Regions from separate parts of the Homo sapiens genome. Here regions 2, 3, 4 and 5 are each linked to region 1. The links come from fine-mapping of genetic effects on gene expression. A gene starts in region 1. Each other region holds a variant in brackets. All regions are shown on one strand. Distances are between the middles of the regions. Region 1 holds the start of RAP1GDS1 (Rap1 GTPase-GDP dissociation stimulator 1). Region 2 overlaps LOC105377340 (a long non-coding RNA gene). Region 3 has its middle 50 kb from the start of RAP1GDS1. Region 4 has its middle 140 kb from the start of STPG2-AS1. Region 5 overlaps RAP1GDS1 (Rap1 GTPase-GDP dissociation stimulator 1).

Evidence for each region. PIP is the estimated chance that this variant, and not a neighbour inherited with it, causes the effect. A credible set is the group of variants that fine-mapping cannot tell apart.
Region 2: its variant is the best candidate, but not a certain one, in a credible set for the expression of RAP1GDS1 in T cells (TOPMed, PIP 0.68).
Region 3: its variant is the best candidate, but not a certain one, in a credible set for the expression of RAP1GDS1 in whole blood (TOPMed, PIP 0.63).
Region 4: its variant is the best candidate, but not a certain one, in a credible set for the expression of RAP1GDS1 in whole blood (INTERVAL, PIP 0.55).
Region 5: its variant is the best candidate, but not a certain one, in a credible set for the expression of RAP1GDS1 in monocytes (CEDAR, PIP 0.54).

The regions. Positions count from the first base shown.
Region 1 is chr4:98,259,288-98,264,396 of GRCh38, reverse strand. RAP1GDS1 (Rap1 GTPase-GDP dissociation stimulator 1) reads right to left here and starts at 3,013. Exons shown (of 15, transcript NM_001100427.2): 1 at 2,828-3,013. The coding sequence starts at 2,831. RefSeq lists silencers at 2,723-2,792, 2,893-3,192 and enhancers at 3,159-3,721, 3,473-3,772.
Region 2 is chr4:98,182,760-98,187,868 of GRCh38, reverse strand. It overlaps LOC105377340 (a long non-coding RNA gene), which reads left to right. Exons shown (of 4, transcript XR_001741771.2): 2 at 1,352-1,446; 3 at 2,633-2,738. Among named protein-coding and RNA genes, the nearest start is that of STPG2, 42 kb to the right of the region's middle. The variant T/A (reference allele first, on the strand shown) is at 2,618.
Region 3 is chr4:98,209,190-98,214,298 of GRCh38, reverse strand. No RefSeq gene overlaps it. Among named protein-coding and RNA genes, the nearest start is that of RAP1GDS1, 50 kb to the left of the region's middle. The variant G/T (reference allele first, on the strand shown) is at 2,676.
Region 4 is chr4:97,508,026-97,513,134 of GRCh38, reverse strand. It overlaps a transcript of STPG2 not described here. Among named protein-coding and RNA genes, the nearest start is that of STPG2-AS1, 140 kb to the right of the region's middle. The variant C/T (reference allele first, on the strand shown) is at 3,162.
Region 5 is chr4:98,279,098-98,284,206 of GRCh38, reverse strand. All of the region lies in intron 1 of RAP1GDS1 (Rap1 GTPase-GDP dissociation stimulator 1), which reads right to left. Among named protein-coding and RNA genes, the nearest start is that of RAP1GDS1, 20 kb to the right of the region's middle. The variant C/T (reference allele first, on the strand shown) is at 2,284.

The DNA.
Region 1 (5,109 bases):
GAGACAGAGTTTCCCTCTTGTTGCCCAGGCTGGAGTGCAATGGCATGATCTCGGCTCACTGCAAACTCCGCCTCCCGGGTTCAAGTGATTCTCCTGCCTCAGCCTCCCAAACAGCTGGGATTACAGGCGCCCGCCACCACACCCGGCTAATTGTTTTTTTGTATTTTTAGTAGAGACAGGGTTTTACCATGTTAGTCAGGCTGGTCTCCAACTCCTGACCTCAGGTGATCCGCCCGCCTCGGCCTCCCAAAGTGCGCGCCCGGCTGAGACTATCTTTAAAAATCAACCTTATTTATTTCTTGAGACAAATTAAAAAGCACTTCTCCCTCCCCTCATCATTAACCAGTATACCTTCTACCTTCTTATGTGTACATGAATTGTTATACTAACTTCCTTGGCCCAGATATAAAACTGTTCCCCAAGGTTTCAATTTTAAATTATCATATGTACCTACTGATCATACATGAAACTGCCTTACCATTGAAGAGAGTTTAGAAGGAAACAGATTGCCTGAGGTTGACTCAAAACCAACCTACAGTGTACTGGGAGGCATGGTACAATTATACCTTTCTGTTTCTGCTTATCCCCCAACTAGATAATATGTACCAACCCAAATGTTTGTTCAGATGAAGACTATATCTTCAGGTTCAAAAGTTGAAAATAATAGGTGGCTTTAAGTTCAACAATTTGCCAAAGATTTACTGAATTTCTATTTGAAAAGCACTGTGGGGAACACAAAAAATAATAAGACACTTTTCATCTTCTGGGACTCATGATTAAATGCACAGCACACACATAAACAACTTTATTATATGGTAGATTACGTAAGTGCTAAAAAGCTTCTAACAAGGTACAAACAGTGCTTATGAAGAGACAGATTAACCAAAGAGTATCAGAGATGGCTTCAAAATGAGAGATAGGTTTCTATTTGGCCCTTTTTAAAAATCAAGCAATAGCACTCAAGATTTTGAAGATTATTTTTAAGTAGATAATTTCTTTTAGGTATTTTTATTCACCAGTGTTGTAACGGAATTGGATTTTTTCCACTGAAAAAGTACGGATTTAACATGTAAGCTAAAATGTTAAATGGATTGTTTAAGGCTCACCTGGAAACATGGGAAAATATATTTTGCAAGCCAAACTTGAACTTACAGTCCAATATCAGATAGGGTTATTGGACATACTGTATATTTCCTTTGAACATACACACACTTATCTGTGTATGTATGTTCAAAGGAATTTTATTTCAAAGTGTATTTTATCTGTGTATGTTCAAAGGGAACACACATAAACGTGTGTATGTTCGACGGAAATATACAGCTTGTCCAATAATCTGATATAATACCTATTTAAAAATCTACTTTAAGAGAAAGGCAGACACGCATAAATGGGCCACCCAATTTTTACAGAAATTTGTTCAGCATATCGAGTACTCACGTTAAAAAGAAAAAACAACTGAAAATAAAATTCAGAGCCCTAGACCTTTTTTGATTCATACCACCTCCTCCGTCAACCCTGGCCTCTTCCAGATATATGGCCAAAGGTCGGGATCAAAGCCTGAAGCATTTGCTGTTCCAGAAAACTCTATGGACACCATTCCCAGGTTTAGATACTTCTTGAAGATTCTGAGTTGCACCACCTAACTCTGAACGTGTTGAGCACTGTATTAACAGATGAAAGGACCACATTCATCTCAAGCTTTAAATAACTCGCACAGAAGGGGTGGGAAAAGTCCCAGCTGACAGATGCCAAGGGAGCAAATTTTAAAAAGAGGAAATTATGACAGACAGGAGTGGAAGCAAACTGGGGAACTTAGTACAAGTCGCTACTATTAAAAGAAACTTTGAGCTCTTAATTACATGACAGCATTCATCAGACGTTTCTGTGATTACTGAATGTAACAGTTAAGCAATAGATGATGTAAAAAAATTAGGTCAAATGTATATATCGTTTTATAAAACATATTTGCTCTTAAATCTCTCATCCAAACCAATCTCTTCAGATTAACTATAAATACAAAGGAACTAAAATCAGATTATGCAGATTAGACAGGAGGAAGCTGGGAAAGAATAACTACCATGTAAGTTCGGTAACAACGTTACAGGGCGCAGTTTCCTGCTACAGAAGACGGACGAAGGAATCCAGAAAATAGGCTGGGCACGGGAATATTGCACACTGTAGTCACCCAGCACTAATTCAACAGCTAGCGGCTCTATCCTGCCTCACGTTCCTCGTGGCCTCTGACAAGTCATCCTTTCAACCTATGAGGCTGTCCGCTCTCCCCCTTGGAAAATAATTTCCGTGCAGGTTGTAAGATCTCCCTCACAAACTACTTGCTTCCACTTCCCCGCCCGGGATGAGGAGTCTCCACGACGGGGAAAGGTCGCACTGACAGAGAAGGAAGTTACACGAAGTGGTAGTGGTCGGACCCGAGCCTCGAGCTCAGTACACGCGGGGGAAAAGGAAGCGGGCGGCCTCTGGAGAAACGGGGATGGAGCTGCAGATGCGAGCCCGCGAGGCAGGCTCCGTGGTGCCCGGGCACCGGCAGGAAGAATGGAGGAGGGGAGGCGAGGCTGCGAGGTGCCGGGGAGCCGGGCGGCGGTCCGGCCCGCGGCCGACCCCACCCCAGCCCGCGCTCGGGACCCTCCCAGCCCCGGCACCCGGCGTGCGTTCCGCGTGCGCCGACTCTCCCCGGAGGAACAGCCACCGTCTCACACCCGGGGACTGGAGAAATCCGGCAACTTTGCGCGAGAAATGCTTCCCACCCTGCAGCACGCCGAGAAAGAAAAAAATGTCAGGCGATGACGGCGGAGGAAGGATGACTTACCCATGTTGCTCCCCGAGGGTGAGGAACCGGCGGGGCGAGGCGAAGGTCTGTGGTGCGGGCGGCGCGGCTCTGTGTCCTCCCTCTACCTCCGTCTCTCCCGCAGCCAGGGAGGGACCCGCGGGGGGCGGCCGCCGGGGAGGAGCAGCTGGTGCTGCTGCAGGCGGCGCGGCCGCGGCGGGGACGAGCGGCGGGGGGCGGGGCGGGGCGGGGCGGGGCGGGACTGGCGGGCGCAGCCTGCGGCGGGCGCGGCTCCGAGCGGGCGGGCGGCGGAGGCGCGGGAGCCGGCCTGAAGAGCTCCGGCCCCGACTCGCAGCCCACGAGCGCCCCGCCCTCCCCACCGAGCATGCTCAGTGCCTTTTCCACCCCTCCCTCTGTGGCGAGCGAGGCTAAGCGTGCGGGTGGGCGTGTGTTTGCAGACCGGCTGCAGCCGCGGCAGAGGATCTTCATGGCGGCCGCCTGAGAGGCGGAGGGCGGGCCCGGAGAAAACAGGGAATGGGGATATTGAGCCCGATCTGCTAGCAGAGGACTCACCGCTGCCTTGCTTTCCCACCCTGACCCACCAACCCCTCACCCGGAACCCGGGCTTGCCTTCTTTACGGGACGACCGGGCCGCACAGGCCGGAATTAACCGGAGAAGAGGCTGGGCCGCCGCAGAGCCGGGAGGGGTGGTGGGAAGCCAGAGCTGACGAAGTTGGAAAGGACGTGTAGGCGACTAGGCCTGCGCCTCTTGGGGACACCTGAGGACGCCCGCTGGGCAGCTGGCTGAGGAGGGGCCGCCGGGAGGGCGCTCGATAGCAGGCGTGTCATTGGGACACTTAAGGCTGCTCTAGCTGTGGCCAGCTTAGAAACAAAGGTCCCGGCAGCGAGGAGAGCGCCCGCCCCAGGATTTCCTCGAAGAGTGTGTCGTTCTCCCTCCCGGAGGAGCGCGGCCTTCCGTTCCCCGGAGGGCTCTGGAAAGGCCCTTTAACCGGGGTGCCGTCGGGCTCCATCCTGCTGTGAAAGCGGGAGGAACTACGTTCCCCAGGCTTGAAAATAAGCGTCCTGCTGGGTTGGCTGCGGCACTGCCAAAGCTAACCCGGCGGAGGTCCTTTGATCCCGGGGCCACCGCCCGCTCCCACCACCACCTCGGCCTCGGGGAGAACCTGAGCAGGGCTCTCCCACTGAGGGCGTCCTCCCGACTGGGCATGCACGTGAGGCCGGGGCTGGCTTCGGTCCTCTTCCCTGGGGTAGGAGGCTGGAGGAAACCGATTTCTCTGCACCCTAATCTTGCCCTGGCTCCTCCTGAGTGGGGTGAGGAATCTGGTCGCTCTCCAAGGCTACAGCGACCGGAGTCCTTCAGGGGACACTGTGCAGTCAGCAGTACAACCTGTTGGAGAAAGATGGCTGAATCGAGGTGTCTTTCCCCTGTCAACTTTCACTCGGTCAATCCAATGTTGAGAAAGGGCTTTTTTTGTTTGTTTGTTAATTAGTCGCCTATTCTCACAGTCATCAGTTTCTGCTTGGTGACTAGTATTTCGAGCACACAAATCAGAAGCGACCCTGTAATTTGTTAAGCAAAGAGCAGATTTTATGTGATTTTTCTACAGCAAGAAACGATAATTAAAAAGGTTTGGTAAAACAGGAAAATACAATTTAACTGCTGAAGTCAAATATATGGGACTTTTCTGATGCATGAGACTATCAGGCACCTCACTCTTAGGATGTTCTTCTTGTTTGCCTCTTAAAATAATCGCACTACATTAGTTCCCTAGGGCTGCCGTAACATACCACAAATTGGGTGACTTAAAACAACAAATTATTATCTCACAATTCTGGAGGCCAGAAGTTTGAAATCAAGGTGTAGGCAGGGCTGTACTCCCTCTGAGGGCACTGGGGAGGGATCTCGTCCATGCCTCTCCTAGCTTCTGGTAGTTTCTTGGCATATGGTAGCGTAACTCCAATCTGAACATGGCTGTTCTCCCAGTGTGCTTGTGTGTTCAAATTTCCCTTTTTAATAAGAACAGCAGTCATAACGGATTAGGGGCGAACCATCCTCCAGTATGACCTCATGGACGTTAATTATATCTGCAATGACCCTATTTCCAAATCAGGTCACATTCTAAGGGACTAAGGGTTAGGACTTCTACATATGAATAGGGCCAGCCTGGCCAACATGACGAAACCCCATCTCTAACTAAAAATACAAAAAATTAGCCAGGGCCAGGCACAGTGGCTCACGCCTGTAATCCTAACACTTTGGGAGGCTCAGGAGGGCAGATCACTTAAGTCAGGAGCTGGAGATC
Region 2 (5,109 bases), 77 kb after region 1:
GATTGACTCCTGCACATAATCTTTCACTCTTCTGCATACCGCTGTACCTCATAAGCATTTTTTAAAAATCATTTTTTGTAATATATTTGCTCCTGTATTCTGCCTTTTCTTCTAGCCAGCAGGAAGTATCAGACAGTCATTAACTTTTACAGAACTCAATTTATTTGTGTTGGTAAATTGCAGTAACCTTAGAGAGATACTTGCTATAAAATTGTCTGAATTGTATTTTGCTGAGAAATATATTTCTTTTAGATTCAGCTAAGATAACTTATAAATCATTTGTCTAATGATTTCAATTAGTATTTTTTAAACTAAAACCTCATTATTTTTTATTCTTCTCTCATTTTATTAATTTTATACTTAAGAATGAAGTCATGCAAGCAGTTAATACAACTAGTTATTCCAGTACAATAACTGAGAAAGAGTGTCTATTTATATTGCTCTTTTGTTATGGATTACTTGACTTTTTTCATAGCATTGTTAGTTTTCTAGACTGATTTAGCCAAATTGTAATTAGTAAATGAATTAACTTGAAAATTTTGCATTTGTATATATTTTTATAAAATGTATGAATCCATACTATTTGAGAATTTATAAAAATTGTTTAAAGCAGAACTATTAACCGGGGTGCCATCATTAATAAAAGCTGCAATGACAAGGTTTGAATTTCTGGATGTGTTTCGGCTGATTCTACAGTTCTTTCTGCTAGACTTGCAAATTAAAATAGCCAAAGTAATTTCTTAGACGAATTGATTTATAAGCAGGCTAATGATTTTTCATGATGTTAAAATAGAGGACTTTCAGATTCATGTTGTAGGAGATTGGTTAAGAATGAAAAATTTGTGTCAAACTGCCTAGCTCTAAATTTAAGCTTTGCCACATTTTGCCTTATATAATCTTGAACAATTTGCTTAACCTCCCTAAGCCATAGTTTTTTTTTTCCATTTGCATAATACAGATAATAATTTATCTATTTCATAGATTATTTTGAGGTTTACATGACAATATAAGTAAGATATTTAGCAGTTTCTGTTACATAGTAAATACTCAAAGATGAGCTAATATAACAGATATAGCTAAGTAAAGTCAATAAAACATATAGTTAATTTAAAGACTATTTTACAACTACCATGTATCTAAGTACTATTTATTTATGTATTTATGTATTTATTTATTTATTTAGTGAGACAGGGTCTTGCTCTGTCGTCCAGGCTGGAGTGCAGTGGTGCGATTACAGGTCACTGCCATCTTGACCTCCTGGGCTCAAGTGATTCTCCCACCTCAGCCTCCTGAGTAGCTAGGACTACAGGTATGTGCCACTACACCTGGCTAATTTTTTTTTTATTTTTAGTGGAGATGAAGTCCCAGTATGTTGCCTCGGCTGGTCGCAAACTCCTGAGCTCAAGTGATCCTGCCACCTCGGCTTCTTAAAGTGCGGGTAGTACTGTAAGCCACTACACTCGATCTTAAGTACTATTAATAAAAGCTACCATATAGTGAGCATTTGTGCTAAATATTTTATATACATTATCTCATTTAAACTTTACAATAACTTTGGGAGTAGTTATAATGTCCTTATTTTATTGACAAGTTAACTGAGGCTCTGAGAGTATATGTCCAAAGTTATATATTTGGTAAGAATATTTTGACATGATCATTTGGAGCAGACATTTTAAGGTCAGGAATATTTTGGTGCAGTCTATAGGAAAAAATCTCTAAACTTTCTACTTTCCCCTGCCAAATCGAAATAGCTTTATTATGCTTATTTCCAAATTTTTTTTAAAAAAGAACATACATTTTGAAAACAACTCAGGCAATATAATAAGATACAAGAATCACTTATAATTTCACCACTCAATGGTAGTCACAGTTAATATATTTGGTAAACATAAATTGTAGACACTACTTGCCTATCAAATATCCATTCTCTTCTTATTTCTTAATAACAGATCCAAATTTTTGTTTGGATCTAGCTAAAATACTTACCTCCCCAGACAAGCAATGGCCCTGAGAACCAGTTCTGGCCAAGGAGATGCAAGCAGGAATCACTGAGTACGCGCTATTGGGAAGGCGGCTGACTTGCCTAGCAACCACCTCTTGTCTACATAGTGTGCAAATATGCTAGGAGTGCAGTCATTTTTTTTTGGCCCAAAAGACAAAAATTGCATGCAGTCTGGCATAATGAAGCCTGAGTCCCTCATGGCATCATGAAGCCCTTTGATCAGTCCTGAACTGCCTACAGTGGAAATTCTTGTTATAAGGAAAAAAACCTTTCTGATTAAGCATTTAAATTTTAATCTGGTTTCTGTTACATGCAATTAAAAGCAATCTTAACTGATACACTATCATTCTGGAGTGCTTTTTCCTATTTAATTACATTAAACATTAAAAGATAACCTTCAAATAATTCCTATTATAAAAGGTAACCTTATTATATAATTATAATTTTGCAATAAACAATATTCATTTGTATGTCATTCAGGCAGACTCTTGGCTGCCAACCCAACAACCATGTCTCCTACATTTATGTTAACAGAATTCTAATTTTGTTTAGATAGCATTTTGTTCAGCCCCTGGGATAAATCTTGATTGGTGTATATAAAAATTATAGCTATCC[T/A]TTCTCTCTTGCCAGTAATTTGTCTAGAAATGACAGTGTAATGCCACTCTGGTCAATGAGACCTAAGAGGAAGTCTACTGGAAGACATCTGGGAAAGATTTACCATCCTGAAAAAAGACATGTGAGAGCATTTTTTTTCCCTCCTTCAATTTCTTGAGGTTGTATTGTATGAAGACGTACTGTTTGGAGCTACAGCAGCCATCTTGTGAAAATAAAGAGAAATATTATTGGCACTGTAGTGATGACCTAATGTAGACAATCTGTGACACTAACCAGGTTTTCTTGTAACATAAACAATAAGTGGGGCAGGCGCAGTGGCTCATGCCTGTAATCCCAGAACTTTGGGAGGCCAAGGTGGGCAGATCACCTGAGGTTGGGAGTTCAAGACCAGCCTGACCAACATGAAGAAACCCCGTTTCTACTAAAAATACAAAATTAGCCCAGCATGGTGGCCCATGCCTGTAATCTCAGCTACTCGGGAGGCTGAGGCAGGAGAACCGCTTGAACCCGGGAGTCAGAGGTTGTGGTGAGCCAAGATCGAGCCATTGCACTCCAGTCTGGGCAACAAGAGTGAAGCTCTGTCTCAAACAAAAACAAAAACAAAAAACAATAAGTGTATTTATATGCTTTAAGCTTCTGTTAATTTTTTTTATTTGTAGACAAAAGCATTCCTATTGACATGTTTATTCAGAAAACATTTATTATTCATTTTCCATGTGTCAGAAACATTATCAGTAAACATAATCAATTATTTTGCCTTCATACAGCTTACTTTTGAAGGGAAAGTAATATTACATAAATAAATTATATCATAAGTAAGTTATAGTATATATTAGAAAGCAATAGGGGCTACAGAGAACAGGAAGACAGGAAAGACATGGAGTGTGCAAGTGTTGGTTGGTCAGGGAAGGTCCACTGAGAAAATAATGTTTGAGGAAAAACTCAGAGTTGGTAAGGGAGTTATCTTTGTGGATTTCTAGACAAAGAGAGTTTCCGGCAGAGAGAACGGCAACTGCAAAGGAGCTGTGATGGGATGGGAGAGTGCCTGGCACCTTCAAAGAGTGCCAAACAGACCCCTATGGCTACAGCGGAATGGGAGAATATGAACAGAAACTGGCCAAACAGACCTGGGAGGACAAGATTGCCTGGGACCTAGTTAAGACCTTGGCTTTTATTCTGAATAAGCTGAATGGTCATTCAAGAATTTTGCATAGAGAAATAACATGATTCAACTAACATGATTCAACTAGAATCATATAAACTACTGTTTTGAGAATAAATACAGAGGAGTGTATTGGGGTCATGGCAGTAGTTATGCTGAAACAAAGAGACCTGCCAAATTACAGAGGCTTGAATAAGGTTTACTTCTTGGGATGTTGGTAGTGTGGTTCTGTTCCATGTGGTCAGTCAGGGACCAGATTACATGTTTTGTTGTTCCCTATCCTTTCAATCATGTTTTTATCTTGCTTGTGTTCACAGGATCATGACATCTTGCAGAAAAGAGGAAGAGAGAATTTCTAGGACAAATGGCTTGTTTTTTACATTAGAGATGAACCAAAAGTTGCACACTTCACCTCTGCTCACATCCCATCCTTCTTAATCATATAGCCACAACTTGCTTCAAGTGAGACTGAAAATACAGTCCCTAATGGGGGAAGAGGTGATGACCATGTGTACAGCCTAAGTTTTTTTTAAGAAAAAAAAAAAAAAGGGCCGGGTGTGGTAGCTCACACCTGTAATCCCAGCACTTTGGGAGGCCGAGGCGGGCAGATCACAAGGACAGGAGATCGAGATCATCTTGGCTAACATGGTGAAACCCTGCCTCTACTAAAAATACACAAAATTAGCTGGGCATGGTGGCACGTGCCTGTAGTCCCAGCTACTCAGGAGGCTGAGGTAGGAGAATAGCTTAAACTTGGGAGGAGGAGGTTGCAGTGAGGCAAGATCGCACCACCGCACTCCAGCCTGGGTGACAGAATGAGATTCTGCCTCAAAAAAAAAAAAAGAAAAAAATTAAAAAAGAAAAAAAGAGAAACAAATTGGTTGGAGGCCTATAAGTTTATGCTACAAGGACTAAAGATAGAACCAGAGGGAGCCTTGGACACCATTGCAATAACATCCTAGTACATGACAGTGTCTTGGACCATAGTGGTAGGAAAGGAGATGAGGAGAAGTGGTCAGATTCTGGATACATTTTGAAGGTATATCCACTAGGATTTGCTGATAAATTGCATGTGATATATGAAAAATATAGAGGAATTAGGAACCTGTCTACTGTTTTTAGTCTGAGCAACAAAAATAATGGACTGGCTAAAACTGAGATGGAGCAGAGTATGGGTGAAGCTGGTGGCTTAAGGAGGAAAATTATGGGTTTTAGATATAATAAATATATGGCTAATTCAATATATAAATGAAGATGAGAAGTAGAAAGTTGAATATTATATGTTAATGAATATATATAATTTTTTTTTGAGATGGAGTTTTACTCTTGT
Region 3 (5,109 bases), 50 kb after region 1:
AAGTCACCAGAAGCTGGGAGAGGCAAGCAAGGGTTCTTCCCTAGAACCTCCAGAAAAGACATGGCCTGTTGACACCTTGGTTTTGGAATTCTAGCCTCCAAAACTGTAAGAAAATAAATTTATGTTGTTTTAAGCCACAAGGTTTGTGGTAATGTTACAGCAACCCTAGGAAACTAATATAGTAGAGTAGATCATTCTTAGCCCCTACTTTATCTTAGAAAGCAGAGAGGCTCAGGGATTTTGTAAGGAAGAAGAACTCTTCTTTCTATGAACTTTCCCATCACTGTTCACAGCAATATAGTCCTCTTGTTTTTCCTCCTCTTATTGTTATCTGATATATAGATGACTGTCCCTTGTGAATTATAGAGTCTTTAGAAAACATCCCTGAAGTCATCTTGAACTAGATAATATCTGAGGACTGAATAAGTGGGGTTTCCATAAGTTTTGCTCAACTGTTTTCAGAGATATATAGATGCTACAGTCCATGACTACTGTGTACAGTAGGGTAGGTTGTATACTGCACAACTCTAGGTTGTGCTATAATTGACATTTATATCAGTGTCAATATGCAGAAGAGTCAAACAGTGCACAGTGTGAACAGACATATAGCGGATGTTATTTATAAATATATATTCATCTAAAAGCATTATTGAGTTAATAGCAATTATTTGTTAAATATTTTTCTCCATCATTGGATTTTTAAATTACGACTATGATCTTGTAGGTGGCTATGAATTTCTCAAAAAGATGTCCTTACATAAAAAATATTTGTTGACTTTGCTACCCTAATAAGCCCAGAATCAGGGAGTCCTTTTTATCTGTCCCTATCATTTGTTACCCATATCAATCAGTCCAAAAGCTTTGCCCATTCCTTCTTTATAACATTCCTTAAATACTATCTGCCTTCTGCATAATAACCACTTTACTCCAGGTGTTCAGGACCTCTGGCTAGAATAACTATAATCAGATTCCTATATTAATTTTGTTTTCCATCTCTTGACTCCTGTTTATTCATGACAGAGTTGCAGATTAATCTTTGCAAAAATAATTTTTTTATTTTGTCAGTTCTCTGGTCAGAAACTCTCACTGACTTCCTTTTACTTGTAGAATTAAATCCAAGTTTCTCAGTCTTTCATTCAAACCTCTGTTTACTTATTCTGTCTGATCTCTTTTTTTTTTGCCAGTTCCTATCACTGTTCTTTTGAAGTTGGTGAATTGACTTCACAATAATGTTAAATAGCAGCAGTGAAATTTTGATTTCCCTCTATTGCTTCCCATTTCCATCTTTTGGCCTGTCATCCCTTCAAAGGAAGTTCTAAAAAGAACATACCTGAGTTAAGAAAGAAGACCTGGCTTAAAATTATTTATTCATTTATAGCTTTAGAGAACCCGTTTTATAAAGACATTTGAAAAGAAAACAATGTAATGAAAGTAATTGTTCTTTGTGAGAGCTGATAATATGATATAGTTATTAAAGAAGCAAAAAACTGTCAGTTACATATTTATTAGTAGTAATCAATTATTATTATTATTATTTTTAGAGACAAGGTCTGGCTCTGTTGCCCAGGCTGGAGTTCAGTGGCACAATCATAGCTCACTCAGCCTCACTGTAGCTGGGATTACACGTGTGTGTAACTATGCCCGGCCACATCAATTATTTCATTTGATCACAAAATATAGTGATGACAAAACATTAATTAAAATTAGATTTCAAGGCTGGGCGCGGTGGCTCACGCCTGTAATCCCAGCACTTTGGGAGGCCGAGGCGGGTGTATCACGAGGTCAGGAGATCAAGACCGTCCTGGCTAACACGGAGAAACCCCGTCTCTACTAAAAATACAAAAAATTAGCTGGGTGTGGTGGCAGGCGCCTAGTCCCAGCTACTCAGGAGGCTGAGGCAGAGAATGGCGTGAACCTGGGAGGTGGAGCTTGCGGTGAGCCGAGATCGCGCCACTGCACTCCAGCCTGGGCGACAGAGCCAGACTCCGTCTCAAAAAAAAAAAAAAAAATTAGATTTCAAGAAACTTCCCATCCAAATTGCATATTGTAGCTTAACTTCAAGAACTTATTTTTAGGCCAGGTGTGATGGCTCATACCTGTAATCCTAGCACTTTGGGAGGGTGAGGTGGGAGGATTGCTTCAATCCAGGAGTTCAAGACCAGGCTAACCAACATGGTAAAACCCCATCTAAAAAAAAAAATACAAAAATTGGCTGGGTGCAGTGGCTCACACCTGTAATCCCAGCACTTTGGGAGGCTGAGGCAGACAGATCACAAGGTCAGGAGTTCGAGACCAGCCTGGCCAACATAGTGAAACCCCGTCTCTACTAAAAATACAAAAAAATTAGCTGGGCGTGGTGGTGGACGCCTGTAAACCCAGCTACTTGGGAGGCTGAGGCAAGGAGAATTGCTTGAACCTGGGAGGCAGAGGTTGTAGTGAGCCGAGATCGCACCATTGCACTCCAGCCCGAGTGACAGTGAGAGACTCCGTCTCAAAAACAAAACAAAACAAAACAAAAAAACCCACAAAAATTAGCCCGGTGTGATGGCACATACCTGTAGCCCCAGCTACTAGGGAGGCTGAGGTAGGATGATCACCTGAGCCCGGAAAGTTGAGGTTGCAGTGAGCCATGATCATGCCACTGCACTTCAGCTTGGGCAACAGAGTGAGAGCCC[G/T]TCTAAAAAAAACCCTTATTTTAAAAACATTAAAAACATTTTGATTTCTCATCTAATCATAATTTTGAAAGCATTATTGTCACTTTCCAATGATCATTATACTAACCAGTAAAATTTCAGTCTTTTCCTTTTACATCTCAGATGAAAACAGGTCTTCACATTAAAAAATATTTGCAGTCCTTCTAGCTGAAGTTTTTTCTTTCTTTTTTTTTTTTTTATCAGGCAGCATCCTGAGCCAGAGTAGGCTCAGAGAGACTCCAGGCTAATTGAGTATTAATTAATATACTGTTGCTAATAATCCATACTTTCTATATTAATAGTGAGGTTTATTATATATGAAATGTTACTCATAGTAGATATCATTCATTACTTAATAAATGAAACTTCACACTTACAAAATTGACAAAATAGGGAGCTAACACATTATCTGAAGTTAAGATATTTGCTGGAGGAATACAACATGTATTAGTCACCTATCTGTTCAGGTCCATTAACATATTTTATTTTATTTATTATTTTTTAATATTTTTAATTTTTAACATTTAAAAAGTATAAAAGGTAGGAGAATTCTGTGAAGAACCTGGACATACTCAGGCAAAACAGGATTCTGCAATAGAAAGAAATAATGAAAGAGCAGATCATGGAGTAGAGAAGGCATTGCTAAGGTCTGCCCAAATGTTCAAAAACCGAAGGCAAAAATTGCTGATCACTAGGTGCCTTGCTCATCTGGAATGCTATTATCTGACGATAGCCAGCAAACCACAATAATGATCACCATAGCAATCTTTTCCTTCTTGAAAGCTCTGGACTCAGCCAAATGGAGAATTTGTTTTCCATGGTAATACCTCTCCAATTCTGTAATTAAAATAACAAATATCATTTTGCCAAATTAGCTTTTCAGACAGTTATATAGAATCCCATCTGTCCTTAAAGAGTTGGGTACCTGAATAATCATTTTAATACTGTTTTAATACAATTGCTGGAAAAATAATAATTGTGTTTTGGCTGCAACAATCCACATTTATTAATTGAAGCTGCAATAATACTAGTGACATTGGCAGAGTAGGAAAAAAAAAACCCGTATGTTAGTTAGGCTGGTTCTGAATATCTGTTTTCTTTCCTTGTTAGTGTTTATCCACTTGGAGCTGAATGAAGCATAAAGGCCAAATGAGAATCTGGCAGTTATTCAACCAGAAAATGTCAACAAATCAGGAAGTTTTCATCTAGAAAACTTTGCCCAGAAATAGATGTTAGAAATAATGGCAAAAAATAAAGGTTAGAAAAAGCATGAAATGAGTTTGGACATCAAAAATTGACATGTACACCTATATACATTGTTTTATTCCTTGTGAAAATGTCGGGAATGTCATCATTTATTATTGGCTACATGTTAACAACTCAGGGTAACCTATCACAGTAGCAGAGATGAAAAGTACTCACGCTAGACTTAGGAGGTGGAAGTAATGGTCAGGAAAGTAGTGTATAAAAATGGTGAAAGAAAACCAACCACGGGAATGAGGGGTGGGTAAGAGACAAATAAGAAACTCTCCCTTGCAAACTACATATGACCCCAAGTCTATGCGAAACAACATTCCCATATATTCTCTGACCAGGGTTGCACCAAAAATGGGCCCATTGAAGACCAGTAAGAAAAAAATTACCAACTTCAGCTACTATTTTGCAATAATGCATGTTATATGGCGTAAATCTGAACTAAGCGTGCATCTGCTCACACAGCCTTAAAGCATATAAAATCCATAATAATATTACCATTCCACAACAAAAACATGGCCTGGCACAGTGGCTAACACCTGTAATCCTAGCACTTTAGGGCTGAGGTGGGAGGATCTCTTGAGCTCAGGAGTTCAAGACCAGCCTGGGCAACAAAGTGAGACCCTGTCTCTACAAAAAAATTTAAAAAATTAGCCAGACATGGTGGCATGCACCTGTAATCCCAGCTACACAGGAGGCTGAGGCAGGAGGATCACTTGAGCCCAGGACGTCAAGGCTACAATTAGCTATGTTTGTACTACTGTACTCCAGCCTGGGTGAGAGAAAGAGACCCTGTCTCAAAAACAAAAACAAAAACAAACACAAAAACAAAAACAAAAACGTGACAACTACCACCAATTCTAAATTGGATGTAATGCAGTTATTGAGCATCTTAATGAAGTCTATTTCCATAAAATATTACAGTAGCATTTCCTGCATGACAGTGTTGCCTGTATTGGGCAGTTTTATGAAAGTTTTATCTTACTCCCTTTTATGGAAGGCCAGGTTTGGGTGCTAGTTAAGCAGACAGATGGACTACGGGTTAGATTATGCAATGGTTACCTGAAGTAGGAGGAACAGGAGCCAGAGTGAAAGCAAGTGGAGTCTCAGAGAACTGAAAATAAAAACCAAGAAAACCAAATTTGTTATCCTTTTCAAGAGA
Region 4 (5,109 bases), 750 kb after region 1:
TTGTTTCCCTTAGTTCTGTGAGCTGTTCTTGGAAATTAATCAAATCCAAGAAAGGAGTCATGGAAACCCTAATTGATAGCTAGTCAATAAGAAGCACAGGCCACAATCTGTTCTTGCAACCAGCATCTGAAGTAGGGGCAGTCTTGTGGGACTAAGCCCTTAACCTGTGGAATCTGACATGCTCTCCAGGTAGATAGTGTCAGAATTGAATTGAACTAGAAGACATCCAGCTGGTGTCTGCTGCAGAATCATCTGCAGAATTGTATGAGGTGTGTGTGTTGTGGGGAAGCTCCACACATCTGTAGTCACAGAATTATTCTGTATTGTGAGAGTATAGTATGAAAAAAAGATTTTAGATTTTCCTGTATCACAGGATTATTTTACTGTCTGGTGTACGCTAAGCCCTCAATAAGTGATAGCTATTACTAATATTTTTAAACCATGAAGATACTCTTTCGTCCCCCTTCCTTCTTCTTCCTCCCACCCCTATCTTTTCTTTATTTTTGCTTTCCCTTCTCTTCCATTCATTTTCCTCTTTTCCCTCCCTTTCCTCTTCTCTCCTCTGTTCTCCCTTCTTCTCAGTTTCTTTTCATTAACACTCACATACTTCAAACACAATCCTAGCTTTAGCTACTATGATATCCCAAATCTGTTGATCCAGACCACATCTTTCCCAAGTGCTTCCAAGCTACATATGCATTCCATGCTAAACATTTACAGTCAGGGATTTCATAGGCACCTTAAAGACAGCATGCTCCAAACTGAAGTGAACGCTTCTCACAATTACCCTCTCATTTGCTCATTGCCTACCTTTCCTATCTTAGTTATTGATGCCAATCATGTAGTCCTGGTAGTTCTTTAATTTTACTATGTGTCATCTTTTATATGACCATTCTTATATCCTCTAGTTTATCATCTCCTTATTTTTCACCTAGATTTTTATAATGGCCTGTTATATGGGCTCACTACCTGTGGTTTTACACACTTCTAATTCAATGTTCAAACTGTTGCCATTTTGAAACTTTCAAAGTGCAAGTCCAATTTTCTTATATGACTTGTTAACTTCTTACATTTTCCTTATACAATTTCAAGATTATAAGAAAAAAAAGTTGAAAAAACAGCAAAGCATGCAGGTCCTTTCCTAGTAAAGTCACTACCTATCCCTCCAGCCTCATCTCTCACCACCTTCCACATGTAACAGCTGCTCTTTAAGGAACTTGCAGCTCTCCAAATATGGCATGCTTTTCACAGGTATCTCTCTACACTAGGAATTTTTTTTCTTCCTTTTTTTCTTGCAAAATCGTACCAGCTCACAAACATTTTTTTTTATGTAGGAAATTAATTATGTTAATTACATAATTGCTCTGTTTTCTATATATTTTTATTTTGTTTGTTATTATCTATGTATGGTAAGCGATCCTCAAGTAATACATTTTGATAAATGCTTGACATGCTTGAAAATAATTTTTATTCTGCAGGTATTGTGCATAACGATGTTTTATATATACCAATTAAATAAAGTTGGTTAATCATGTTTAAATCTTCAAAAGTGTTACTGTTTTTTTGTTGTTGTTTATTTCTGTTTATTCTACCAGTTACTGAGAGAGGTATACTAAAATCTCCTACTATGACTGCAAATATATGGATTTCTTCTTACTCCTCTGTTAAAATTTTCTTTATATATTTTGGAACTTATTATAAGTTACAAAGAAACTCAGGATTGTTTTACTTTCTTATTGAAATTATTATTGTATCCTTATGAATTATCTTGCTTTTTATCTTTAGTTTTTTTCACCATAAATTCTTCTTAATCAGATATTAACATAACCATTCCTCTTGATTTTAATTAGTATTTTGTAGTACAGTTTTTTCTGTTCTTTTACTTTCACTTTTCTGTGTCTTCATAATTTAAGCATGTTTCTTGTAAATAGCATGTACTTTGGTCTTACTTTTTAAACCTATTCTGATAGTGTCTCTGTTTTGATTATAGTTTTTAGTACTTTTTGAATTTACATAATTACTAAAATAGTTGTGTTTAAATCTTACTATACATTTTCTATTTCTTCCATGTACTTTGGCATTTTCACTCCTCCCTTTTCTCTTTCTTTTGGATTAATTGAATATTTTTATTCCAGTTTTTCTCCTTTGTTAGCTATTATTATTATTAGAGATGGGAGTTTGCTCTGTTGCCCAAGCTATAGTGCAGTGGCATTATCACAGCGATGTACAGCCTCAAACTCCTGGGCTCAAGCTATCCTCCCGCCCCAGCCTCCTGAGTAACTGGGATTACCGGCGTGAGCCACTGTGCCCAGCAGCTTTAATTATATATTGCTATATATTATCGATTCTTCCCTGTATTCCTTTTTAGTGTTTATACTTAAGATTTCAACATACAGGGGCACAAACCCTATTGTGAACTGCACATGTGAGGGATCTAGGTTGTGTGCTCCTTGTGAGAATCTAACTAATACCTGATGATCAAGGTGGAACAGTTTCATCCTGAAACCATCTCTCCCACCCCCAGTCCATGGAAAAATTGTCTTCCATGAAACTGGTCCCTGGTGCCAAAAAGATAGGGGGCTGCTGCTCAAGACTATAGAGTTTTAGGTTCAGTAACCCCAGCATTATATCTGTGATGTATAGAAGGTAAAGTGTACATGTGAATGAATCAATGATTTGCAGTTATCTACACACTACCACACAGATTATTAGATAATTTAGAATCTTATGTTCCACACTTTTACTTCCTTTTCCTTCTACTGTCCTAATGCAAGCCCTTATCAGTTGTTGCTAGAAAAAATTAAAATGGTTTGTTGTAATGATTTGCTATAAACACTTTCTCCATATCAATATATAATTTAGGGCCAAAGATGCAATATTGAGCCTGACAAGAATGTATCAACTTACCCTGGTAATGTTAACCCTTCTTCATATCATATCAAAGGAGTAAAACTGTGGAACACAGATTCTAAATTCTCTAATAATCTGTGTGCTAGTGTGTAGATAATTTCAAATCATTGATTCATTTACATGTAGACTTCGCCTTCTACATATCACAGACATAATCCTGGGGATACCGGCTCTAGAAACTCTATAGCCTAGAGCAGTGGTCCCCAATCTTTTGGCACCAGGTGTCAGTTTCGTGGAAGACAATTTTTCCA[C/T]GGATTAGGGGTGGGAGGGTTGGTGGGGGTGCTTAGTAGAGTGTTCTGTTCTTACTAGGCACTTAATGGTATATGTAAAGTCATTGATAAGGTTTCAATGTTCTTAAATTTTTGAAAATTAATTCTAATAATCAATTGAATAACATTTTTACCCGGATTACCTTATTATGAGATGTTATCTGTAATTCTGAAGCACAAACCACTATTTTTCCCCTTCAAAGTGGCTGCCTCTTTTCATCTCTTTGAAGTGTGGCAAAAATAGAGAAAGCCTTGTCAGTATTTTTTGTTTTCCCTTATATTCCATAATATTAAAAGTGCATATTTGTCTTTATTTAAAATCAATTTCCGTGAGTAACTTTCTAGTGTTAACACCTAAAAAAAGGCTTTGTTTTTAGATTTTTGTATATTGTATACCACAAATCCTCATTAAGCTATTCTTTATCACACTTTTCTTTCTCATTTGTAACTTCTCTATGATTCTCTGAACAATGTGCTAATGAAACTTCACTGTTCTTTATGGTTTATGTTAAGGCAAGACATTATTACAATTTCTTGTAAGATTTTTGTGAACCTAATTGAAATTTAGAACGTCAGTTGTCATTTTTATAAATTGGGTGTCTAAAGCTCATAACAATGAATAAAGTTTTATCTTGAAACCTTGAATGGAAACTTGCTGTATTATATAAATTTCCATCTGAAGTTTCCACACTGACCTCTTAAGAATTCTGGGGAAAAAAAAAAAGTCAAATTCTTTTCCACCTTTGGGAAGGAGCTACAGACTGTCAGGAGTGCAAAGACAGAAACGGACCAGGTTCAAAATCGAAACCCTGGAGAGACATAAGCCCATAGAAATATGTAGGGGCCAGATTGGGCCTAACAGTGAAGGCGATGCTGTAGAGCAGGAATTTAGCTCTGAGTACATTGGTAACACATTAAAGAACTCAAATACACAACAATAGGAAAATAGGAAAATGGTTAATTAATTACAGTTAATTCACTCAGAAGAACATTATGCAGATTTTAAAAAGACAATGAAAACAGTGTAGCAAAGGGAAGAATTTTTATGATGCAAGAGATGGGTAGTTAGAGTGTTTGCTTCTCTACAGATAATCAGAATACTTTGGCCCTCTAGTATAAAGCACTATTAAAGTATATTTTCTGTGCTGATTATTTTTAATAGGTAAATTTTAGTTCATAATCGTGGATTTATATTTTGTATTTTCATGCTATAATTAATAAAAATTATTTTTTGTTCAAACAAATTCTACTTATTTTGATAACATCATTATGTCGTTATAATTCTAAACATACTTTTTATTAAGTTAATGAAATGGTGAATAATAAACTATTTTGAATAACACAGTAATACTGAATTAATAATTAATATTTGTTGATATGGTATGTTGCATTTTTATTCTCATTCAATCCAAAATGTTATCTAATTTGCATTCTGATTTTTTTACCTGTACATATATTGAAATGTATTGCTTAATTTCAAAACATTTGAGGAAAAGAGTCTAGTTATTTTTTATTGATTGATTTCTATATTCAAAGATAGTGAATAACCATATTTTGAATAATTTTTGTAGTATGAAATGTGCCATAGATGTGTCATGTGTCCATTATCTGTCATGAACCAATATATGGTAAACTCTGGTGAATGTTCCATGTACACCTGAAAATAGTGTGTATCTTTTTTTAAATAGACCAATTCAGTATTCTCAATATTTCAGTCATGCCTATTTCATAAATTATTTTGTTTGGATTTCCTATACCCTTATGGATGTATTTGCTGTATTGGTTACTATGGCATAATAAAGAATTTGCCTGGTCTTTGTTCCAGGTTCCTTCACAAACCTCTGGAATTTCCTGAATGATAGAAATAAGGTGACTCATAGTGGGCTCCTATATAGCTTCAACATGGGGACAGGTCATGACACAGACTAAC
Region 5 (5,109 bases), 20 kb before region 1:
TAAAAATTATATGGATATCACTTTATGTACTATTTCCAACTCCCTTGTGAAATAGATATTATTATCTGACTGTAATAGATGAGAAAGCTAATTCAGAAGCTGAATAACTTGCCCAGAATAAGTGCCAAAGTTGGGTAAATCCAGATATACGTGTGTCTGCAAGTACAGGCTCTTCCTTCTGTATAGGTAGCTGAACTTTGCTCAGTTACATGAAAGTTACACAGATATTGTGCTAATCAGAACTGTGCAAAGGACTGTCTGTACCTTCCTTTATATAGATGTAAGCTCTTCCAAAATGAATTTATAATCCAAACACGTTAGCTAGTTGTACTAGGTAACAACTGTCTATGTATCTGAATTAGTGACTAACAAAAAAAAAAAAAAAAAAATCACAATGAAATGTACCAGGAAGCAGTCTGCCACAGTATCTCAAGGGTAGTACAATGCTGAATACACACTTTAGCTTTCAATAAGTGTTTAACTGAATAAATAATAAATTCTAGAAAAAGTTCCAGATCATTTTAAGTAATGAACACTTATATATGTCCAAGAAGCTGTATTAGGGGCTGAAAAAGTAAATATAATCTGTCCTCTTAATTAAATTCTTAGGGGTCTGTGTTTTCTCTTGACAATCTAAATTATGTCCTTTTTTATCGCTCATTTTCTATTATTCTTTATCTACTAGAGTTTAAGCATTTCAAAACTAGAAATATGACTACTTGCACTACTTATACTTTGTCACTGTTTATAATGCCTAATATGGTAGTCTTGTGTTGCTCATTTGACTGATGGTGCTTTGTATGCAACACATAAAAGCCAGAAATATGACACACTGGACAGTTTTTATTAGAGCTTACCACCACATCACCATCCCCAGAAATGCATTTCTGCAACTAAAGGAAAATCATCAGCTCATACTATTTTTTCTTTGCTCTAACTGTATTTTGGAGACCAAATGTAGCTTATAATATTAAAAACAAATCAACATTTTTATTTCTCTGAAACACAACTACATCAATGTAAGTTTTGCATTTTGTAATGATCAGTTTCATCTTTCATGAAGTTACTTGAAGAATCTTCAATTTTCAGAAAAGTTAAAAAATTGTTTTTAAAATCTGATGAATTTCTTGTCAAAAAAACTTTGATGGTATGTGTTTCTCACCGTTTTAAAGGCAATTTTTTTTTAACGTTCAATTCCTAGAACAAAAATCATAACAAACTGTCTCTCAGACCACAGTGCAATCAAATTAGAACTCAGGATTAAGAAACTCACTCAAAACCACACAACTACATGGAAACTGAACAACCCGCTCCTGAATGACTACTAGGTAAATAACAAAGTGACGGCAGAAATAAAGATGTTCTTTGAAACCAATGAGAACAAATACACAACACACCAGAATCTCTGGGACACATTTAAAGCAGTGTGTAGAGGGAAATGTATAGCACTAAATGCCCACAAGGGAAAGCAGGAAAGATCTAAAATAGACATTCTAACATCACAATTAAAAGAACTAGAGAAGCAAGAGCAAACAAATTCAAAAGCTAGCAGAAGGCAAGAGATAACTAAGATCAGAGCAGAACCGAAGGAGATAGAGACATAAAAAACCCTTCAAAAAAAAAAAAAAAATCAATGAATCCAGGAGCTGGTTTTTTGAAAAGATCAACAAAATTGATAGACCGCTAGCAAGACTAATAAAGAAGAAAAGAGAGCAGAATCAAATAGACACATTAAAAAATGATAAAGAGGATATCACCACCGATCCCACAGAAATATAAACTACCATCAGAGAATACTATAAACACCTCTACGCAAATAAACTAGAAAATCTAGAAGAAATGGATAAATTCCTGGACACATACACCCTCCCAAGACTAAACAAGGAAGGAGCTGAATCTCTGAATAGACCAATAACAGGTTCTGAAATTGAGGCAATAATTAATAGCCTACCAACCAAAAAAAGTCCAGGGACAGACGGATTCACAGCCGAATTCTACCAGAGGTACAAAGAGGAGCTGGTACCATTCCTTCTGAAACTATTCCAATCAATAGAAAAAGAGGGAATCCTCCCTAACTCATTTTATGAGGCCAGCATCATCCTGATACCAAAGCCTGACAGAGACACAACAAAAAAAGAGAATTTTAGACTAATATCCCTGATGAACATCGATGCAAACATCTTCAATAAAATACTGGCAAACCGAATCCAGCAGCACATCAAAAAGCTTACCTACCACGATCAACTTGGCTTCATCCCTGGGATGCAAGGCTGGTTCAACACA[C/T]GCAAATCAATAAATGTAATTCATCACATAAACAGAACCAATGACAAAAACCACATGATTAATTCAATAGATGCAGAAAAGGCCATTGACAAAATTCAACAGCCCTTCATGCTAAAAACTCTCAATAAACTAGGTATTGATGGAAAGTATCTCAAAATAATAAGAGCTATTTATGACAAAGCCACGGCCAATATCATACTGAATGGGCAAAAACTGGAAGCATTCCCTTTCAAAAATGGCAGAAGACAGGGATGCCCTCTCTCACCACTCCTATTCAGCATAGTGTTGGAAGTTCTCGCCAGGGCAGTCAGGCAAGAGAAAGAAATAAAGGGTATTCAATTAGGAAAAGAGGAAGTCAAATTGTCCCTGTTTGCAGATGACATGATTGTATATTTAGAAAACCCCATCATCTCAGCCCAAAATCTCCTTAAGCTGGTAAGCAACTTCAGCAAAGTCTCAGGATACAAAATCAATGTGCAAAAATCACAAGCATTCCTATACACCAATAACAGACAAACAGCCAAATCATGAGTGAACTCCCATTCACAATTGCTTCAAAGAGAATAAAATACCTAGGAATCCAACTTACAAGGGATGTGAACGACCTCTTCAAGGAGAACTACAAACCGCTGCTCAACAAAATAAAAGAGGACACAAAAAAATGGAAGAACATTCTATGCTCATGGATAGGACAAATCAATATCATGAAAATGGCCATACTGCCCAAAGTAATTTATAGATTCAATGCCATCCCCCCATCAAGCTACCAATGACTTTCTTCACAGAATTGGAAAAAACTACTTTCAAGTTCATATAAAACCAAAAAAGAGCCCACATTGCCAAGACAATCCTATGCAAAAAGAACAAAGCTGGAGGCATCATGCTACCTGACTTCAAACTATACTACAAGGCTACAGTAACCAAAACAGCATGGTACTGGTACCAAAACAGAGATATAGACCAATGGAACAGAACAGAGGCCTCAGAAATAACACCACACATCTACAACCATCTGATCTTTGACAAACCTCAGAAAAACAAGAAATGGGGAAAGGATTCCCTATTTAATAAACGGTGCTGGGAAAACTGGCTAGCCATATGTAGAAAGCTGAAACTGGATCCCTTCCTTACACCTTATACAAAAATTAATTCAAGATGGATTAAAGACTTAAATGTTAGACCTAAAACCATAAAAACTCTAGAAGAAAACCGAGACAATACCATTCAGGACATAGGCATGGGCAAGGACTTCATGACTAAAACACCAAAAGCAATGGCAACAAAAGCCAAAATTGACAAATGGGATCTAATTAAACTAAAGAGCTTCAGCAAAGCAAAAGAAACTACCATCAGAGTGAACAGGCAACCTACAGAATGGGAGAAAATTTTTGCAATCTACCCATCTGACAAAGGGCTAATATCCAGAATCTACAAAGAACTTAAACAAATTTACAAGAAAAAAACAAACAACCCCATCAAAAAGTGGGCAAAGGATATGAACAGACACTTCTCAAAAGAAGACATTTATGCAGCCAACAGACACATGAAAAAATGCTCATCATCACTAGTCATCAGAGAAACGCAAATCAATGCCACAATGAGATACCATCTCACACCAGTTAGAATGGCGATCATTAAAAAGTCAGGAAATAACAGATGCTGGAGAGGATGTGGAGAAATAAGAATGCTTTTACACTGTTGGTGGGACTGTAAACTAGTTCAACCATTGTGGAAAACAGTGTGGCGATTCCTCAAGGATCTAGAACTAGAAATATCATTTGACCCAGCAATCCCATTACTGGGTATATACCCAAAGGACTATAAATTATGCTACTATAAAGACACATGCACATGTATGTTTATTGCGGCACTATTCACAATAGCAAAGACTGGGAACGAACCCAAATGTCCACCAATGATAGACTAGATTAAGAAAATGTGGCACATATACACCATGGATTACTATGCAGCCATAAAAGAGGATGAGTTCATGCCCTTTGCAGGGATATGGATGAAGCTGGAAACCATCATTCTGAGCAAACTATCACAAGGACAGAAAACCAAACACCGCAAGTTCTCACTCATAGGTGGGAACTGAACAATGAGAACACTTGGACACAGGGCAGGGAACATCACACACGGGGGCCTGTCATGGGGTGGGGACAGGGGAAGGGATAGCATTAGGAGAAATACCTAATGTAAATGATGAGTTGATGGGTACAGCAAACCAACATGGCACATATATACTTATGTAACAAACCTGTACGTTGTGCACATGTACCCCAGGACTTAAAGTACAGAACTTAAAGTTCAGAAAATATTTTATAATGTCAAAAATATAAATTATGCAATATATGTATACATGTAAGTATATATAAATAATTTGCATCTCAAAAAAAATTATTCTGGGTCACAAAAAAAAAGTTCAATTCCTGTTTTTTTCCATATGAAAAAAAAATTCCAACAATCATTTACTAGTTATCTGAAATTATATACTTTTTTATATCATTTAAAAATTTTTTAAATGTAATTATCTTAAAATTTTAAAATTATATATCATTTATGTAATTCTTTTGCATATAGTTATTTTAAATGTTATAGAACTCATATATTATAAAATGCTAAGACATAATAATGTTCCTTAGAAAAAATATAGTGGCCCTATTATTATTATTTTTGTTTGTTTGTTTGTTTGTTTTTAAGACAGAGTCTTGCTCTGTCGCCCAGGCTGGAGTGCAGTGGTGCGATCTCGGCTCACTGCAAGCTCTGCCTCCTGGGTACATGCCATTCTCCTGCCTCAGCCTCCCAAGTAGCTGGGACTACAGG